Linked DNA regions of Homo sapiens. The protein of the gene in region 1 purifies or fractionates together with the protein of each later gene. This does not show direct contact. Each region holds a gene or a part of one and is shown on either strand. Other genes may lie near its edges. The genes, in order: LSG1, VPS33A, ZNF622, VPS8 and TGFBRAP1.

The links.
Region 2: the proteins of LSG1 (region 1) and VPS33A purify together in Homo sapiens (co-immunoprecipitation; one large-scale study listed by IntAct). This does not show direct contact.
Region 3: the proteins of LSG1 (region 1) and ZNF622 purify together in Homo sapiens (affinity purification with western blotting; one study listed by BioGRID). This does not show direct contact.
Region 4: the proteins of LSG1 (region 1) and VPS8 purify together in Homo sapiens (co-immunoprecipitation; one large-scale study listed by IntAct). This does not show direct contact.
Region 5: the proteins of LSG1 (region 1) and TGFBRAP1 purify together in Homo sapiens (co-immunoprecipitation; one large-scale study listed by IntAct). This does not show direct contact.

The regions. Positions count from the first base shown.
Region 1 is NC_000003.12:194,661,887-194,666,082, forward strand, and holds part of LSG1 (large subunit GTPase 1 homolog), read right to left. Parts: intron 3,758-4,196; coding exon 3,671-3,757; intron 1-3,670. UniProt on the Homo sapiens protein: Functions as a GTPase. May act by mediating the release of NMD3 from the 60S ribosomal subunit after export into the cytoplasm during the 60S ribosomal subunit maturation.
Region 2 is NC_000012.12:122,235,116-122,239,311, reverse strand, and holds part of VPS33A (vacuolar protein sorting-associated protein 33A), read left to right. Parts: intron 1-587; coding exon 588-725; intron 726-3,388; coding exon 3,389-3,526; intron 3,527-4,196.
Region 3 is NC_000005.10:16,451,019-16,453,409, reverse strand, and holds the end of ZNF622 (cytoplasmic 60S subunit biogenesis factor ZNF622), read left to right. Parts: intron 1-253; coding exon 254-397; intron 398-1,625; coding exon 1,626-1,753; 3' UTR 1,754-1,891; downstream 1,892-2,391. UniProt on the Homo sapiens protein: Pre-60S-associated cytoplasmic factor involved in the cytoplasmic maturation of the 60S subunit.
Region 4 is NC_000003.12:185,045,886-185,050,050, forward strand, and holds part of VPS8 (vacuolar protein sorting-associated protein 8 homolog), read left to right. Parts: intron 1-2,593; coding exon 2,594-2,674; intron 2,675-4,165. UniProt on the Homo sapiens protein: Plays a role in vesicle-mediated protein trafficking of the endocytic membrane transport pathway.
Region 5 is NC_000002.12:105,263,625-105,267,731, reverse strand, and holds the end of TGFBRAP1 (transforming growth factor-beta receptor-associated protein 1), read left to right. Parts: intron 1-172; coding exon 173-349; 3' UTR 350-3,318; downstream 3,319-4,107. UniProt on the Homo sapiens protein: Plays a role in the TGF-beta/activin signaling pathway. It associates with inactive heteromeric TGF-beta and activin receptor complexes, mainly through the type II receptor, and is released upon activation of signaling.

The DNA.
Region 1 (4,196 bases):
TTTCAACATGTACAGGCTCACTTGGGAAATTATTAGGGACATAAACAGTGTAAGAGGGGCTTCCTGTTAAACTGAACACAGATGGTTACCTCTGCTCCCTCTCAAAACCTACAAAAACAAAGGCTGAAACCCATTAGGATAAAGAGAAAGAACAGCAGCAACCAAATGTCAAACCAACAAGAAGCAAACCTGTTCATGCCCCTGACGCCCAAGAAAGCCCAGTATTAGAAACATCAGCTCTATCTCTCCAGGGCAAGAACGAGGCCCGCGCCCGTAATCCATCTGAACAGTGAGCTCATAGGTCGGCTACCCTGTTCCATTCAGTGAGGCAACTGCAACCCACCACACAGCCCCCATTCCCCACCCCAATAGCAGAAGGCTAGGGTTTATTATGGAGAAAATGAACTTGACAAGTTCCAGGACTGGGACCTCAGGCACAGGGAAAATGGGAAAGAGTTGCCATAGGGCAAAAAGGGGAATTCAGCATAAGCCTATGAAGATACTGAACTGTGAAGGTGCCCAGCACCCTTGTATTATACCACCTCCTGCCCCTTTCCTGGCAGGAGATCATTCTTCTTTTTAAAAACTGACTGGCACTGGGCACAGTGGCTCATGCCTGTAACCCCAGCACTTTGGGAGGCTGAAGTGGGTGGATCACCTGAGGTCAGGAGTTCGAGACCAGCCTGGCCAACATGGAGAAACCCCGTCTCTACTAAAAATACAAAATTAGCCGGGCGTGGTGGCGCGTGCCTGTAATCCCAGCTACTCGGGAGGCTGAGGCAGGAAAATCGCTTGAACCCAGGAGGTGGAGATTGCAGTGAGCCGAGATCACGCCACTGCACTCCAGCCTGGGTAACAAGAGCGAAAGTCCGTCTCAAAAAACAAAACAAAACCACACACACACAAAACTGACTGGCTCTGGGGAAAAGACCTACAGATCTTAACATCTTGGGGTATTCCAACAAAATAAAACTGACCCCTGCCCAGGCACCCTACAGTGAAGCTCACCAGTTGGCAAATTCCACCTAAACAGGCAGGCTTGTCAACCGGCTTTGTAATGCTTTGTTCTTAAAGACAGATAAACACCACTAGACACCTGAGGAAGGCCTCTTCCGTAAAAGTCAGAAACCAGGAGAAAAAGAAAAGGAACAAAGAGGAAAGACAGATAATATAGGAAGTAGGACAAAATCTGAAAACAAAACAAAAACTGTAATTAAGTGTGAAGATGGAGGGTGCTGTCCTCAAGGTCCGGGCTGCAGTACTTCTGCACTTGTTACCATTTCTCTTCGGAAATTAGAAAACGGGCATTCTCAGGAGTACACAGCATCAACTACCAAGGAGGCACCAACGAAGAGGCTACTCTGCTCCACAGCAGTTCCCCAGTTCCCCAGGAGAATGACTGTGGGCCTTCCGAAGCCCTCCTCAAGCTTGAGTAAAAGGAGCCTGCATGGACCCCAAATCAGCAGAAACCCTTTCCCTTCTTCCGCCTCAGAGAAAGCCTTTCCCTTCTTCCGCCTCAGAGAAAGCCTTTCCCTTCTTCCGCCTCAGAGAAAGCCTTTCCCTTCTTCCGCCTCAGAGAAAGCCTTTCCCTTCTTCCGCCTCAGAGAAAGCCTTTCCCTTCTTCCGCCTCAGAGAAAGCCTTTCCCTTCTTCCGCCTCAGAGAAAGCCTTTCCCTTCTTCCGCCTCAGAGAAAGCCTTTCCCTTCTTCCGCCTCAGAGAAAGCCTTTCCCTTCTTCCGCCTCAGAGAAAGCCTTTCCCTTCTTCCGCCTCAGAGAAAGCCTTTCCCTTCTTCCGCCTCAGAGAAAGCCTTTCCCTTCTTCCGCCTCAGAGAAAGCCTTTCCCTTCTTCCGCCTCAGAGAAAGCCTTTCCCTTCTTCCGCCTCAGAGAAAGCCTTTCCCTTCTTCTGCCTCAGAGAAAGCCTTTCCCTTCTTCTGCCTTAGAGATTTGCCTTGCTTCTCTGACCTCCCCGCATCCCAGCCCAAGAGCCCTTTCTGTACCCGTAGAGAGCTGAGGATGGGGGCATTCAAGTGACTTTGTCATCACCCTAATAGGAAATGTAAGTGACTTTTACAAGTTTAGTCCAAGTACTGTTTTCTTTTTTTTGGAGACAGAGTCTTGCTCTGTCACCCAGGCTGGAGTGCAGTGGTGCGATCTCGGCTCACTGCAACCTCCACCTCCTGGATTCAAGTGATTCTCCTGCCTCAGCTTCCCAAGTAGTAGCCAAGCCTGGCTATTTTTGTATTTTTAGTAGGGACAGGGTTTCACCACGTTCCTCAGGCTGGTATCGAACTGCTGACTTCAAGTGATCCACCTGCCTGGACCTCCTAAAGTGCTGGGATCACAGGTGTGAGCCACCGCGCTGGGCCCTGTTTTCTTAATAACAATGCTAAATGTGATAAGATTCTTTTCTGAGAATCCCAATTAAAGCATTCTGTTTCCTAGTGTTCTTACTAGGTTCACTTTATAGATTTCAAAGGAAAAAAAACCAGCCTGAAGGGTCCTTGTTGAAAACATTTCAAATATAAGGTTCATTTATGGCATCCTTGAAAGTAATTCAGAAACTCTTTGAGGAAAACAGAAACCTTTTAACTATACCAAAGAGGTGAGATTAGAGACAGGTGTTCATCAACTTCTAACAATCAGGAATTCTCCTTAGCATTACATGAAAAAGAATAAAGATCTCCCATTCTCAATTTGTCAAAATCATTCTCTTCTTTTCAGAGCCCAGTTAAAAAAAATAAAAACCAGGCCGGGCATGGTGGCTCATGCCTGTAATCCTAGCACTTTGGGAGGCTGAGGCGGGTGGATCACGAGGTCAGGAGTTCGAGACCAGCCTGACCAACATGGTGAAACCCTGTCTCTACTAAAAATACAAAAAAAAAAATTAGCTGGGCGTGGTGGTGTGCGCCTGTAATCTCAGCCACTTGGGAGGCTGAGGCGGGAGCACTGCTTGAACCCAGGAGGCGGAGGTTGTGGTGAGCTGAGATCGTGCCATTGCACTCCAGCCTGGGCAATAAGAGCAAAACTCCGTCTCAAATAAATAAATAAATAAATAAATAAATAAAAAACATAAAAACCACCCCGTGATTTCCTCAATACTTATCAACCACTCCTTCCTCTGCTATGACTCAGCCCACTGCCTTTCTATCTGCAGCAAAGCAGGAATCATACTGCCCTCTGTATTTCACTACGTATTAAGTTTTCTGAGTGCAAGAATTGCATGTCATTCATCTGTGTGTCCCTGGTGCCTGGTGCTTTGCTTAGCATTTAGCTGAACATGGTGTAACTCGGCTGACAGGAGCTCTGACATTCGCCTCTCCCCATAACATAGATGCTCTTTGCAGGCAGGAACTTAACTCTTTTTCGTATCCATATTTTCCACATTACCAGTAGAAACCAAATATACATTTGCTAAAATATCTATATAGGTGCTTCAGAATTCACCTTGCAGAAAATGTTCATTATTCTCACACACTTATCAACATATTCATCTAACAACAAAAAAACTATACAAAATATACGGTAGTATCATGCTGTGTTTTTATAATTCTCAGTAACCCTCTGCATAGCTTAATTCCCATACCCTGAGCCTATAAGCCTATATCAACAGCCAAATCGAATATAACTTCACTACAATGTCTTTATTACACAAAAGAAAATGATAATTCACCTTCTCTCAATGACTCTCCAGAGCTGGCGCCAAAAGTCCAAATTTCGTTCAAATGGAGTCAATATCAGCTTCTGTTCCTCTTCTAGCCTAGTTTTTGAATGAGAAGTTTATATATTTGCCAGATTATAATAGACAATTTTTAGCAGTGTAAATGCTCAAATTTATTACATTAAAAATAAGTACTGGGCACAAATATCCAGAGTCAAATTATTTTATATATTTCCTGCTGAGACACCATAAAAATACTATTTATTTAGACAATACTCCACCAAATTCAAATTTTATCCTGAAGCTATTTATGCCCTGGAAGTTTACCTATCACACAAAGTCATTTCTTTCCCACACTCTTACTGGAAAAATGTGCAGGAGAGCAGCGATCAACTCCAGGATGCCCAATGGCCAAAGAAGGGAATGAAAGGAAAAGGCCCGGAACTGAGCAGAGTAACCAACTCACGATCTCTGTGCAAGGATGCATTTGCACCTAGCAATCTTGTTTGTGCATACATCTATTTGCACTTGTTAGCAG
Region 2 (4,196 bases), on another chromosome or scaffold:
GACTGTATTAGATAAGGTATTTGCTCTTTTGAAAGAGTTTCTTATATAACTCCTTTAAATAGCTCTATTAACAAATTTTAAATTATTCACTTTATGAAAATTCCTAACATAAAACAATTACTGATACTTTTTGCTAGATTAGTTGTTGATACTATTGAAATGGAGTAGACATCTGGTAGCCTCTCAGAAGCGTGTCCTTAGAGACAGACGTGTCCAGACAGGCATATGGAGTGACCAATTGTATTCTCAGCGGCCTTGGGCTCCAGTGACTTGGCCTGATCACTGGGGGGTGTGTGTGTGTGTGTGTGTGTGTGTATGTATGTATGTGTGTGTGGGGTGTGTGTGTGTGTGTGGTGGCCAGGGTGTGTGTGTGGCTGGGGCTAGCAGAGCTATTTCGGGGAAGGGTTAGGGACTGTGGAAAAATAACTCATTTTCCCACGTATCTCCTTTATTGGACTTTGAAAAATAATAATAAACATCAAGTTAAGTTCCTAAACCATGTATTGTGTGTGTGTGTGTGTGTGTGTGTGTGTGTGTGTGTATGTATATGTAAATGTATATGTATATGTATGCTACTTTATTTCCAGGTCAACAATTACATTGAGGATTGTATCGCCCAAAAGCACTCGTTGATCAAGGTGTTAAGACTAGTTTGCCTCCAATCCGTGTGTAATAGTGGGCTCAAACAAAAAGTTTTGGATTATTACAAAAGAGAGATTCTCCAGGTGAGTATATTTTTAAATTATTAATTTGCCAAGGGGGACAGCATCTTTTTAAAAAATACTTCATGGGCCGGGCACAGTGGCTTACGCCTGTAATCCCAGCACTTTGGGAGGCCAAAGCAGGTGGATCACTTGAGGTTAGGAGTTTGAGACCAGCCTGGCCAACATGGTGAAACCCCCATCTCTATTAAAAATACAAAAATTAGCCAGGCATGGTAGCATGCACCTGTAGTCCCAGCTATTTGAGAGGATCAGGCAGGAGAATCGCTTGAACGCAGGAGGCGGAGGTTACAGTGTGTCAAGATCATGCCCCTGCACTCCAGCCTGGGCAACAGAGTGAGACTCTGTCTCAAAAAATAATAATAAAAAATTTAAAATTAAAAAAAATAAAAATTACAAAGCTGCCATTTTGGTATCTTGTAACGACTGTTGTATAAATTTTTTAACACCTAGAGGAATTGGTCTTGGTAGCCATCACTGTTTATTGTATTTGTGTGATAATAATAGCTAACAGGCTGGGCACAGTGGCTCACCTCTGTTATCTCAATATTTTGTGGGGCTGAGGCAGGAGGATCGCTGGAGGCCAAGACCAGCCTGGCAACATAGCAAGACCCTGTCTCTACAAAAAAAATACAAAAATTTACCAGGCATGGTGGCTGTGTCTGCAGTCCCAGCTACCCAGGAGGCTGAGTTAGGAGGATTGCTTGAGCCCAGGAGTCCAAAACCAGCCTAGGCAACATAGCTTGTTTACAAAAAGTAAAAAATAATAATAATAGGTAACATTTCTTGAGCATTTACTATGTGCTAGGATCTATTGGAAAAACTTTATAGGCCGGGCGCGGTGGCTCTGTACCCTGACTCTACTAAAAATACAAAAAATTAGCCGGGCGCGGTGGCGGGCGCCTGTAGTCCCAGCTACTCGGGAGGCTGAGGCAGGAGAATGGCGTGAACCCGGGAGGCGGAGCTTGCAGTGAGCCGAGATTGCGCCACTGCAGTCCGCAGTCCGGCCTGGGCGACAGAGCGAGACTCCGTCTCAAAAAAAAAAAAAAAAAAAAGAAAAACTTTATGTGCATTCATTTGTTTCATCTTCACAATACTTCCTTGTTAACTGTAGTTACCATAACAACAACAACAAATATTCACAACAGCCTTGTGAGTTAGAGACTGCTATCGTCCCAGTTTTATGGATGAAAAACTGAGGCACAGACTAGTTTAGGTAACTCACCCAAGGTTACCTGGCTGGTAAGTGGCACAGCCAGTGGTAAACCAGGCAATTTGAGTGTAGCGCCCATGTTCTTAACTCCGCAGTTATACCACGGAGGAAAAGAACTTTCTGCAAATTTCTGATGACAGTTGCTTAGCAGGTTTACTTAAATTAAGCCTGTGTTACTTATAATAAGGAAAAGGCCACTCTTGTTTTTGAAAAGTCTCCCCTTTGTTTGAAAATGACTCAGGTAGTATTTATTTGCTGTTACCAGTGACAGTTAAGTACATTTTTATTAAAATTGAGTGCTCATTAATTTTTTGTTTTTGTCTTTTTTTAAGTTATGTATCCTTGTGTAAGAGTCAAATAATGCAGAAGTACACAGAGCAAAATGTGAACGTCCCCTGTACCTTGCTCATACCCCAGTTTCCCTCCCCAGATGTGACCAGTGTCAGCAGTCTGATTTGCTTCCTTCCAAACTCCATTCTTTGCATTTAGACAGAATGTTTCCATACACAGACTTCAGAGCAAGACTGGCTGGATCCAGGTTTCAGCTCTGCTCTTCACTAGCTGTGTGACTTTAGGCAGGTTATTTAAACATCTCTGTAAAATGAAGGTAATGATACCTACGTCATGGGGTTAGAGCCGGGATGACTGAGTTAATGTATGTAAGTGCTTAGACCAGAACAGTGCCCAGCTCATAGAAAGTATTTTATAAGTGTTGGCTACTTTTTAAAATTTATTTATTTTTTGAGACAGTATCTCACCCTGTTGCCCAGAGTGGAGTGCAGTGGCACAATCTTGGCTCACTGTAACCTCCTGGGTTCAAGCGATTCTCCTGCCTCAGCCTCCCGAGTAGCTGGGATTACAGGTACATGCCACCAGGCCCAGCTAATTTTTTAATTTTTAGTAGAGACAGGGTTTCACCATGTTGGCCAGGCTGGTCTCAAACTCCTGACTTCAAGTGATTGGCCCGCCTCGGCCTCCCAAAGTACTGGGATTACAGGTGTGAGCCAGCATGCCCAGACCTTGGCTACTTTTTAAAAATAGAAATAATGTCCTACTCTACATGTTATTTTTTTTTTAATATATTCTGGAGACCTTTCTTATCAGGATGTATACATATGCCTTACTCTTTTTTAGAGCTAATTATATCCCTTATAAAAATATACTATCATTTATTTGATGCTTGCTTAGATTGGGTCCATAAATTCTGACTTTAAAGTAAAAATTTTAAATTTCTCTTTGAAACAGTGAGCTGAATTAATAGTAACAGGCAAGCAGTTTTAGGACAAGTTTCATCCCTCCACCCTGTCCTCTGTGCCCATCCACTAACATTGCTGGACTTTGGTAACATGTCCTGCAGTACAAACCAAATTGATTTGTTGGAAGTGCCCTTCTTTGAAAATTGCAGAAATCCTTTTCCTGATCTGACATCAAGGCCAAATGACTTCCCTTGCAGACATACGGCTATGAGCACATATTGACCTTACACAACCTGGAGAAGGCCGGCCTGCTGAAACCGCAGACGGGGGGCAGAAACAATTACCCAACTATACGGAAAACATTACGCCTCTGGATGGATGATGTTAATGAGCAAGTAAGCCACACTTCTCCACCTCGTCTCAGCTTAGGGACTGGTTAGATCGTCCAGGTGACAACACATGCTTCTGAACCTACACATCTGCCTTGCTTTCTGAAAACAATTTTCTAATGTTTTTGAAAAAGTAATGTATGCATGTATTGTATCCATCAGAATCCTAGAAGGACACAGAGAATGCTCTTAAACTGGGGAGTTTCTGGAGAGTTTAATAAAGATGTGGGCTGGGCGCGGTGGCTCACACCTATAATCCCAGCACTTTGGGAGGCCGAGGCGGGCAGATCACTTGAGCTCAGGAGTTTGAGAACAGCCTGACTAACATGGGAAACCCCATCTCTACTAAAAATACAAAAATTAGCCCAGCATTGTGGTGCGTGCCTGTAATCCCATCTACTTGGGGGGCTGAGGCAGGAGAATTGCTTGAACCTGGGAGGCGGAGGTTGTAGTGAGCTCAGATCATGCCATTGCACTCCAGCCTGGGCGACAGAGCAAGACTCTGTCTCAAAAAAAAAAAAAAAAAAGTTATGGGGCAGGCTCGGTGGCTCATTCTTGTAATCCCAGTATATTGGGAGGCTGAAGGGTCAGATCGCTTGAGTCCAGGAGTTCGAGACCAGCCTGGGCAACATGGCAAAACCTTGTCTCTACAAAAAAAATGGCCAGTGGTAGTATG
Region 3 (2,391 bases), on another chromosome or scaffold:
ACTTGTCATTTTCTTTTTAAAAAATCTATTGTTTGGTTTTCTTTTTGTTGCATGCTTGCTTTCTTTCACTTTTTATTTTTATTTTACATGCTGCTTCATCTGTCTTTAGTAGATAGAACAACTGTTTCTTCTGGTACATCGATTTTCCATCTAGATATACTAAAAGATCTGATTTGGAAAGCCCTTGCTTTATAGCTCTGCCTTGAAAAAACTATCCAACTCAGTGTTTCAGTATTGCTCTTTTGAAAAACAGGTGCCAGAGTGGGTCATCGCTCCTTGATGAGATACTACAAACAGCGATTTGGCTTGTCAAGAGCTGTGGCAGTTGCCAAAAATCGGAAGGCCGTGGGCCGAGTACTTCAGCAGTACAGAGCCCTGGGATGGACTGGCAGCACAGGTACATTGATCTTTACAACTACAGACCAGTCTGAGAACTTGTATTTCTAGAAGGGGTCTGGGGAAAGTTGTTTCCATTTATGTTGTCCATGTGGATTCTCTCTAGGGGAAACGTAACGTCTTGGCTCCAGGGACTTCCATTACCACTTGATATGTTTAAGGCAATAAGCCCAAAGTGCTATGACTTAGAAATTTCATATTCCTGGCACAGTGATTTTATATACCATTAACTTTTTCAGAAGATAATAGTTACAAAAAGAATTATTTAGTAATCACCAAAGGTTGAAATTATCCTGGAGGTTATGCAGAGGAATTAGATAGTATCCTAGTGGTTAATAGCTTGAGCTGTGGAGTCAGACGTGACTTATGTGATGTACTTAGAGGTTCTTATATGATGAACATGAGTAATTTAATTAATATAAGCTTCTGTTTCCTCATTTATAAAACAGAGATGATAGTAATAAGACCTACCTCTTAGAGTTGAGTGGGTTGAATGTCATGCATGTGTGATATAGTGCATGCCCATAGTCGAGGTTAGCTATCAGTCCCCTTTTTTGTAATTTTCCCATAGAAAATTTAGCAAAAGTTAGAAGAGTAAAGCATGCCACTGCAATTGTTGAGTTTTGAAACCTCATCAGTATGGTACTCTTTACATCTATTCTGATGTGTCTGCTGGATGAAGCTGGTTATATCCTTAGATCTTCAGGGAAAGCATCTATCCAACTGAGGACTGTGGAGAAAATAAGAGGCGGGCTGCCTTCTGATGGCCTGGGAAGCTCTAGGCAACTAAAATCCATTTGAAAAGGCACTGTGTTTATATGTGGTTTCCTTCACTGTGGCTGCTTGTGAGCTGTGTGGCCACTTGAATCTGGCAGAGACTTGACTTCATCTTACTCTTATCAGGAAGTATTGTCTGACTCGATATATAGCTTCTGCCTTTCTGATTAATGGGGCTTTACCTTTTGGGCTTATAAACTCTTCCAGATGATGAAAACTAAAGCTACTAATCCCAGATAAGTGTATATATACAAAAGTTCTGGTATGCAATTCTGGAGTCCACAGAGACCCCTGAGGCGCATGGCTTAGAGACCCCAAGTTAGCAACTCTGTTTTAAATACAAGAACCTAGTTACCCCAAACTAACCTTTTGAATTCTCTGCCAAGGTTGGATTTTCTCTGATCACAAATAACAGAACTTTGCCTAATTTCTTAACTGCCTTCCAATCATAGGAGCGGCTCTTATGCGAGAGCGAGACATGCAGTATGTCCAAAGGATGAAATCAAAATGGATGCTGAAGACAGGAATGAAGAACAATGCCACCAAGCAGATGCACTTTCGGGTCCAAGTGAGATTCTGAGAGTCTGCTGGGATTGAGCAATCATCTCCTGCCCAAGTTTCCTCCTTGCCCTGAGGACCAGTGAAAGACAGATCATAGGAGAGACCCTTTTGCTGCTACTTCATTCGTTCTGACCTAATAATAAAAGTTAGAACCATATGAGTTTTCAGATGTCGTTTTTGAATAGTGTTGAAAGGTTATGTTTTCACAAGGTAAGTCCTGTGTCTACTGGACCCTGGGACTTGCACTGCTGCCTGACAGTTGCTTCATCGCCTCAGCTTTAAATGATTTATGATTGTCAGAGTAATGTGAGGAATCAGGAATGACTTGTGTGCCCCAAACTTAGTTTAACTTTGAGAGTAACTCACCATGTCATGGCACTGGGACCTATGTAAGGGGGCTTGAAGGCTTATGTAGGGGCAAAGTTGAATGTCACTCATGGAATGTATCATGGTACAGGAGGTACTGAATATCTCTGGGCGCTTGCATTAAATCCAGGCTAAGTTAAAAAGCACATCAATAGCTTGCTGTAAAGGTTTTATATTTCTAAACATGACTGCACAGAGTGACTACTGTGTAGTCTGATGCAGTTTCCAGTGGTGCAGTTAGTCTAGGAGGAAAGTAAAGGTAAAATGCTTAGGTATCATTTTAGAAAGACT
Region 4 (4,165 bases), 9.6 Mb from region 1:
GTGCTGGCACCCCATGTTAGCCCAACACCCCTCTCCCTGGGGCTCTCAGAGATCATCAGGACCTCGTTTTCCACAGGATTTCCTTTAATGCTGAGTACTACAAGGTCATTTCCAGGGTTGCCACTGTTTCTTCCTCTCGTATTCACTACAGTTTAATTTTTAGCTCTTAACACTGGACTTTGTTACATGGGAAGAAAGAAATTTGCTCTAACAGACAGCAGCAAATGCATTTTTCCTTCTCTTCCAGTTGGAAAATCACTCCTAACCAGTTTTATCCTTGGGGAGGTTTAGTGGTCTGAGAATACTTTTATGTTTTTGGAGTGAACAGAGATTATGTTCATATTTGGTTGCTTCCCCTTTATTTTTTGTCTGACCTTAATTTGGCATCTGTAGACGGAAACTGTTACTTATCTTCAGGGCTGCCATGTATCTTTGTGACATTGCCCCTAATTTGCTTCTGAATATGCAGTAAAAGATAAAAGCCATGATTAGGCTCAGTAAACATTACTGTTTTTCTTGAAACTTTCATGCCCTAAATGCCTGTTAATCTCATGGTGCCCACCTCTTCCCTGGATGGTGGAGTGTGGCCTGAGGTGGCATTGCCCTTTGATCAATTGGAACAAAGACTCAGAGGAGAGATGTGACCTCCTCAGGTTATACAGGGAGCTGGTAACAGGATTGGAGCCCATGTTTCCTGATTTCATCCCATTGTTCTTTCTAGGGGGACACTTCTCTCTGGGAGTATAAACAACACAATCGCAGTAATTACTGCCATTGATTGAACATCAAATAGATGCCAAGCCCATACATTATGTCTAATTTTCATAACAATTCTGCAAAGTAGAGTTTTACAGATAAAGAAACTGAGACTGAGAGAAGCTAAATTCCTTGCCCAGAGCCACTCACCTAGTCTTGGGCAGAGTCCAGATTGAGCCCAAGTGTGTCAGAGCCCTGCCCTGTGTTCTTACTGCATGGCGAGGGTTGGTCACAACGCCAGTGATAAATAGTAAGAAATCAGAAATCTGCATGCCGGCCCTCCCATCCCTTCATTTGATCAGCAGATGATGACTCTGTGGCTGCTCTGTGCAAGCACAGTACTGGGCACTGGTGAGCAAGACAGAGGGAGCTGACCTTAGCAGCTCTCATTTCCATAAAGTTTTCCCTCTCACACTCGGCATACCCTCTCCTGCACATCCCCCAACCTCCTTCATTACCCAGTTTTGCCTGTGCACGTTGCTCTGATGTCCCCTTCCTTTCTGTTTCTGTAGCCACATCAGGACGAGGGCCACATGATGTTGCTTCTTGGAGACTGGCTCTGTGCGCAGTACCTGCGGGCCTTCCTGTGCTCTCTAGTTAGTAGCGCTCAGTGAGAACTTGCAGAGTCCCGTGCATCTGCTACGTGTTCTGTGTGCATTACCTTCTTGAATCTTCATAGCCACTTTATGTGATGTAGCTATAGTCATTATCCCCATGTGAGCAAAAACAAACAAACAAGCAAAAAGTACCCAACTCGGAGAACTTGCCTAAGATTATGCTGCTAGTAATTGCTAAAGCCAGGGTTTGGGCTTAGGCTGATGAACTCTGCAGTGCAGGCTCTTACCCACCAACCTGTGCAGTGCAGACGCTTGGGACAGGTTCATGATATAGGGCAAAGAAAAACGTCCTTTTACCAATCTTATACATAAACAAAAACACTTCTGAAATCAACTTTTAACTATGGGTATCTCTGAATTGTAAGAAAAGCTAGCGTATACTGAGCCCTCGCCTGGTACTAGGCAGGCGACACTTTAAATATATATCTCATTTAATTTTTGGTAATCTCAAAAGGTAAGCATTACCCCTTCCTTCCCACAGGTGAGGCAATTGAGGCTTAGAGAAGTGAGGTGACTTGCCTAAAGTTACATAGCAGGTTACTGTCAGAACTAGTATCCAGATTCTCCTCTGACTCCAAAGCTTATGGCCGCCTCCCCCAGGATCCCATTTCTTCTCTCTGCATATGAGCTGGATCAGGTCCACTGAGAGAAGAACCGCAGTTTGGCAGGTCCCACCACAATAACAGGTGGAACAAAACATGGCTGCTGTAAGAGCAGGCTAGACCGGCCCTTTTCCCAAAAGCAGCAGACGAATCTTGCAACCCCATAGGTGGCGACCAGCTTTATAATGAGACAGGGATGAGATTTTTAAATGACAGTGCGTCTCCTGTTACCATGACAGAGAAAAGCGGTATCTTTGCTGGCCGTATGAAGTGATGGACATGGGAATGCAAGGCTGGAAGGAACTAACTAGCTCTGCATAATGGTGCCAAAGAGGGATCAAGAAACCTGAAAGGAACCTATACATACGGGACATTTGGAGACTCCATTGGGAAAAGGGTCCACAGACAGGTCAACCTGCAGCCACACCAAGGAGGGATCTTAGGGGACGTGCCGATTTCTAACTCATGTTCAGTATATATCTCACTAATAGCTGGTAGCATGGATTGTTTTCAGGAGAATGAAGGAAGCACCATGTTATGCTTCAGCATCGTGTAGAGCAAGTTGAGAGGCTGCCTAGCCACGTGATGTTGTTAATCGTATCGGTTTTTATTTTTCAGGGAACCTCAGAACCTGTTCTGGATCCACAGCAAATCCAAGCATTTGATCAGCTTTGCCGTCTCTACCGAGGAAGCTCCAGGGTAATGTTTGCGTGGTTGTTTATATTTTTATTTCCCTATTTATAGTTTACTGCTTTAGACAGGCAGTGTCTTGGAACCTCCCTCTAGCCTCCTTCTAGCCTGGAAGGTGCCCTGGCATCCCTGTTATGGCTACATGGACAACAGACCCTGGCCCCAAGGAGCACTCAGAGCTTGGCAAAGAGAGCAAAGGAAGTAGAAAGCTGTCTGTCCCCTACGTACCATGAGCTGTGAGGACACAGAAGGGCCTCTGTGTTTGACCTCCCTCCAGAGAGAGCAGGCCAGAAGGTTGATCCCAGGAGGGCTTTGCTTAGGATATGGATAGGTGCCCAATCTGTCCGAAGCCCTAGACCCTCCTGGGCATCTGCACTGGTTGAATTAGTTTTGGCCATGAAAGACAAATGCAAAGTAGTAGTGGTTTAAGCAAGAGAGAAGTGTAAATGCAGCCAGCCAGGGCACATCCACGTACCTCCCTTCAGCTTTCTTCTGTCCTGTTGCTCTGCCTTCCTTAGCACATGACTTAAACTCGTATGGTTCAACATGGTTGCTTCCACTTACCTCCACTGTCTAGAATTTAGACCCATGACCATACCTCACTGCAATGGAGACTGGGAAAATTGATTTTTATTCCAAAAGACCTTGGGCTACAATTCTTGGTCTAATCTAACTGTGGAAGAAGAGTACAGACTGGAGGGCTTCTATCAGTCACTGCCACCACATCAGACCGGGTGTCCCCCAGGCACTTTGGACATGTACTCATCGCTTTCTCGACCTGTTCTTCATGCCTGGTGCCTGCCTCAGGAATGATACCTCTGTCATCCAACCACCTAGAGCAGAGACCTGGCAGCACTAGGCTCACTCCTCACCTTCCTGCCACCTGACTGGGGACATCCTGTGGGATCTTGTCTACTAATCCCTCTTTTACCACTACCCCGGGTGGGGCCTCCTTATCACTCACGGAGGCCACTGCAGGTCTTCTGATTGGCTAGAAACCCTTCTGTCCCCTCTCCATGCTGCTGCCTGGCTACCCTTTCTAAAACCAAGTATGTCATGTTACTCCCTTGCTTATAACACATTCTGGATCTCCACCACCTAAAGAATGAGTCCAAACCCTACCATCTTCTTCACTCCCCAAATCACACCTCAATTCTAGGTGGTCCCATTTGTTCCTGAGCTTGTCTCGAGCTTGTGCAAACTGCTGTGTCCTCTGCTTCTCTACCTGGGCCCCCTTCACGCACTCCCCTTTCTTAGGCAGAACCTACTAGGTTACTTGGCAGCCGGAGGAAAGAGTGGTGCTCCTTCTTTGAGAGTTGGTGTGGGCAGAGGTTGTTATTCCAGGAAGTTTCTCTAGGGGTCTCCTGGATGCAGTCCAGCAGCTTTATTGAACTGGCCTCACCCCCATCCCTTTCCAGCCTCAGCTAAGCTCTGCCCCAGGAGTTGGGTTTCTGGGCCTTCCAAGGAGGTTCTTCTGCTTCAAACTGTTGAGCCCTTATT
Region 5 (4,107 bases), on another chromosome or scaffold:
ATGGTTTTATTTACACCTTTAGCATTTCATTTCAAGAAGTTGATATTAAAGAAATCCTCATCATAATAATAACCCATGGAGTAATGCATGTCAACTCTGCAAAACTAGAACGTAGCCACTTTAAATATACTTAACACATGACAGCATTCTCAGTCTTGGTTTCTTCTTGCAGATGAAGTTGAAAGGAAGCTCAATCCAACTCTCAGACAAAAAGCTTTGTCAGATATGCCAAAATCCCTTTTGTGAGCCTGTGTTTGTTAGATACCCAAATGGTGGTCTTGTGCACACCCACTGTGCCGCCAGCAGACACACAAACCCCAGCTCATCCAGTCCTGGCACTCGGACTTGAAAAGCTTGGCCCAAGGGTGCGAGGGGAACTCCGAGTTCTTTCTGAGCCTGCTGGACATGAAGAGCAGATGACCACCATGCTCTGTGTCAGCCAGGACGAAGGGAGACATCTGGGTGCCAGGGAGCCTTCCGTCCATACGCAACAAGGACTCCTCGCTGCTGACCAGGCTCTATGAATGTACATGGAATGACCAGGCTCTATGAATGTACATGGAAAACCCCTAAAAATCCCCAAAACAGAAACATACAAGAGTTCACCTGTCCAGGTACATAGTAATCCAAGACAGAGGTCTACTTTGAAAAAAAAAAAAAGGGAGTCTTCCTCATGCAGTCCAGACCCAGGTGGGGGATCCCCCACCACCCCCACACTCCAACCTTTAGACTCATGTTTGCACTGGAAACGTGGCTTCACCATGGCTGGCGACAAAGTCCTCTCTTGCCTGGGTGAGTGGCGAGGGCACAGAGCCTCATGGGGGTCAGCCTTGCCCTCCTGCAGAAACACGTTCTCCATCCACGCCGCTCACTCATGGGCCCATTTCCCAGGGTTACCTCGTGGGCTCTGCCTTTGCCCTCAGAAACGGCTGACCCTGGAGAAGTACCTTTGTTCCTTCTTTCTTCCTCTCCGGCTCTCAGCTCCCAAAAGATTCTGCCTTGTGTACCCAAGCACTCACTCTTGGGTGAACTAATGCTTCTGGCTGCCTAGCAAGTGAAGATCTGTTGAGAAACTGAGAACGCTCCAAGAGAGAAGCTGCTCTCCCCTCCTTGAAGAAGCCGCGGACACGGGAAACCCACGGCGGGCAAGGGCCCAGCTGTGTGCTCCTTTCCTGTCATGGCATCTGCTGATTTGAAACTCCATGACGAACACGTTGAACTAAACATTTTTATTTAAATTTGTATCATGTTCGTAGTTGCTCTCTTGTTGAGAGAGTCATCTGTCCTGTTTGTTAGGGGTATTTTTTCTTGTTAAAATGTATCTCCTGTTGAATACTCGGGAAATTCAAAGGGAAGTGTGGTCAGCACACACTGAGCGTTCTTTTCTGGAGAGGCCGGTTTTAGCCTCGTACCTTTAGCAGGACCGACAGCGGGTGGAAGGGCCCGTGTGCTGGATGGGGGTGTCGCCTCCTGGATGGCACACCCTCCCGAGGACATCCAGACAGGCTGTGTCACCCTCCAGCACTTTATGTGCCTGCTCTGAGGTGTCCTGAACACACAGCAACGGCCTCTCCTTCATCACAGGCCGGGGATTCCTTTTGTGTTTCTGTATAACATCGATGACGAGCTGAAGCTGTTGTCACTTCACTGCCCTCTTTGGAATTTCTTCATTGTGCTGACTGATTCTATTAGGGGCTAACAATAAAGGCAGTCTACCCACTACTATCATGCTTGGGAAACAAGCGTCAGCTTGTACATATGACAAGAGAGGACCCTGAATACACCCTCTCTTCATCAGCCCAAGCCTTACTGAGGTGGGATGAAGACCTCATTCTCTGTTCTTTAAAACATGTTTCGTGAACTAATATTGGTCCATGTATTTTTTGTCCTTTTGGGACTCTAAGTGGGTCAAGAAGCAAAAACATCCATGTGTTGTTTGGGGGGAATTGGCACCATTTTTTCCTGACTATGTTTCAATTAACTAAAGAATAAATGATGAAGAAATTCTCCTTGTAGCACAACTGTATGCTGTGTAAATTGGTGTGAGCTCAAAGCCCAGTCATGTGTTTTACCTGTGGGTGACTCTGTTGTAGAATGGTCATATTACTGCATATGTTATCATGACAACTTGTGAGTTTGAGTTTATATTTCTCAAAGAACAAGTTACCCGTATATGCAACATTGCGCCATTAAAAGCTTATTTCTCTGTACACAAAATGGGTAAAATCTTGAAAAAACTTAGTAATTTCTCATTCCTAACACACAGACAGAGTCTCACTCTGTCACCCAGGCTGGAGTGCAGTGGCGCAATCTCGGCTCACTGCAACCTCCACCTCCTGGGTTCAAGCGATTCTGCTGCCTCAGCCTCCCGAGTAGCTGGGACTACAGGTGCATGCCACCACGCCCAGCTAATTTTTGTATTTTTAGTAGAGACGGGGTTTCACCATGTTGGCCAGGATGGTCTCGGTCTCCTGACCTCGTGATCTGCCTGCCTCGGCCTCCCAAAGTGCTGGGATTACAGGCGTGAGCCACTGCGCCCAGCCAACACTAGTCATTTTTATTTTTTCACTGAACATTGATCAATACTCTAAAATGTTTGTCATCCTTTAGAATAATGGGAATTAAAGTTGAGCAGTTTTCCATCTCTACCAAATCCTTCACCACAAGCAGCATTCTATTACAGTATGAAGAATTGTCTCATATGTTAAAACTGTACTTTTCTCTAACCTTTCTCTCACTCCTACAAGGCCCTTTTCTCAAATCATATTTCTGAGAGAAATGTATGGTTCTTTCTCACAGGCCTGCTGATTTGTAACTGTGCCATCGAATAGAGCAATTAGATCCATCAGACCTTTTTCCCCTCATTAGGTTCAGTGGAACCATTCTGGTTAAAACAGCATGAACTGAACTCAGTTTACATTCATATTCTATGGGCAATACCATTTGGTTTTTGGAACTGTTTATCTGCTGTTCCCTATCAAGTATTAATGTAGGGATGTCACTCAGGCTGCGTTGCACTGGGCTGAGTTCAACTGCGACGCTCTCACTGACGCGTGCTTACATGTGCTTCTCACTTCCGGAGCACAGGCAGGTGGCTGCGGGGTCCCAGCTCTGAATGGATGCCCATGATGCAACTGGGGCAGCCCTTGCTTTTTGCTTGCTCTCCCACAGAAACCTTTGTCCTTGCAACTTTATCCTTTGTCCCGATTGGGTCCCAGATACACAAAATGTACAAATGTAAACTTGCTCATTTTATTAAAATTCTTTTAGTTCTTTGTTCTTTCTGTAATTTTTTAAAATAAAAATTGCCTTGATGGAGTGATGGTTTTCACTCGCACCATACCTAGTCTAAATAAAGAGTTCTAGAATCTGTACCTTCTTGCTTTTCCTAGCACCTACAGAGGACTTGAGTTGCCAACCCCTTAAATTCTGCTATTGTTTTACCAAATTTTAACGTGTCTGCTTCTGAATTTACCCAATGCATATTTTAGGGTGCTCCTTGACATTGGTTGCCATCAGATTAATCATGCACTGAGGAATTCAACCAGGGAGACTTCTGATTACTTCTTATCTACTTTACCTTTTAGCCAGATACTCTTAAATAAGGCTGCACTCTTGGATTTCTAACCCTGAGCATATTCAAAGAACATAACTCTTACAAAATCGTACCTTTTAAATTTTGCTTCATCCCCTACACTGTTGTTGATGGCAGGTCTTTCAGCTATCCTGTTGAATTTCAGAGCACTTTCTCATGTTCTTTAATTCCAGGTGCTATTCCCACCCTGAAGAAAGGGGTATGTTCACACACATGATAATCCTCTGAGTTGTTTTGTTTTGTTTTTTATGAGATGGAATTTCGCTCTTGTTGCCTATGCTGGAGTGCAATGGTGTGATCTCGGCTCACTGCAACCTCCACCTCCCGGGTCCAAGTGATTCTCCTGCCTCAGCCTCCCGAGTAGCTGGGATTACAGGTGCCCGTCCACCACACCCAGCTAATTTAAAAAATATATATTTTTAATAGAGACAGAGTTTCACCATGTTGGCCAGGCTGGTCTTGAACTCCTGACCTCAGGTGATCCACCTGCCTTGGCCTCCTAAAATGCTGGG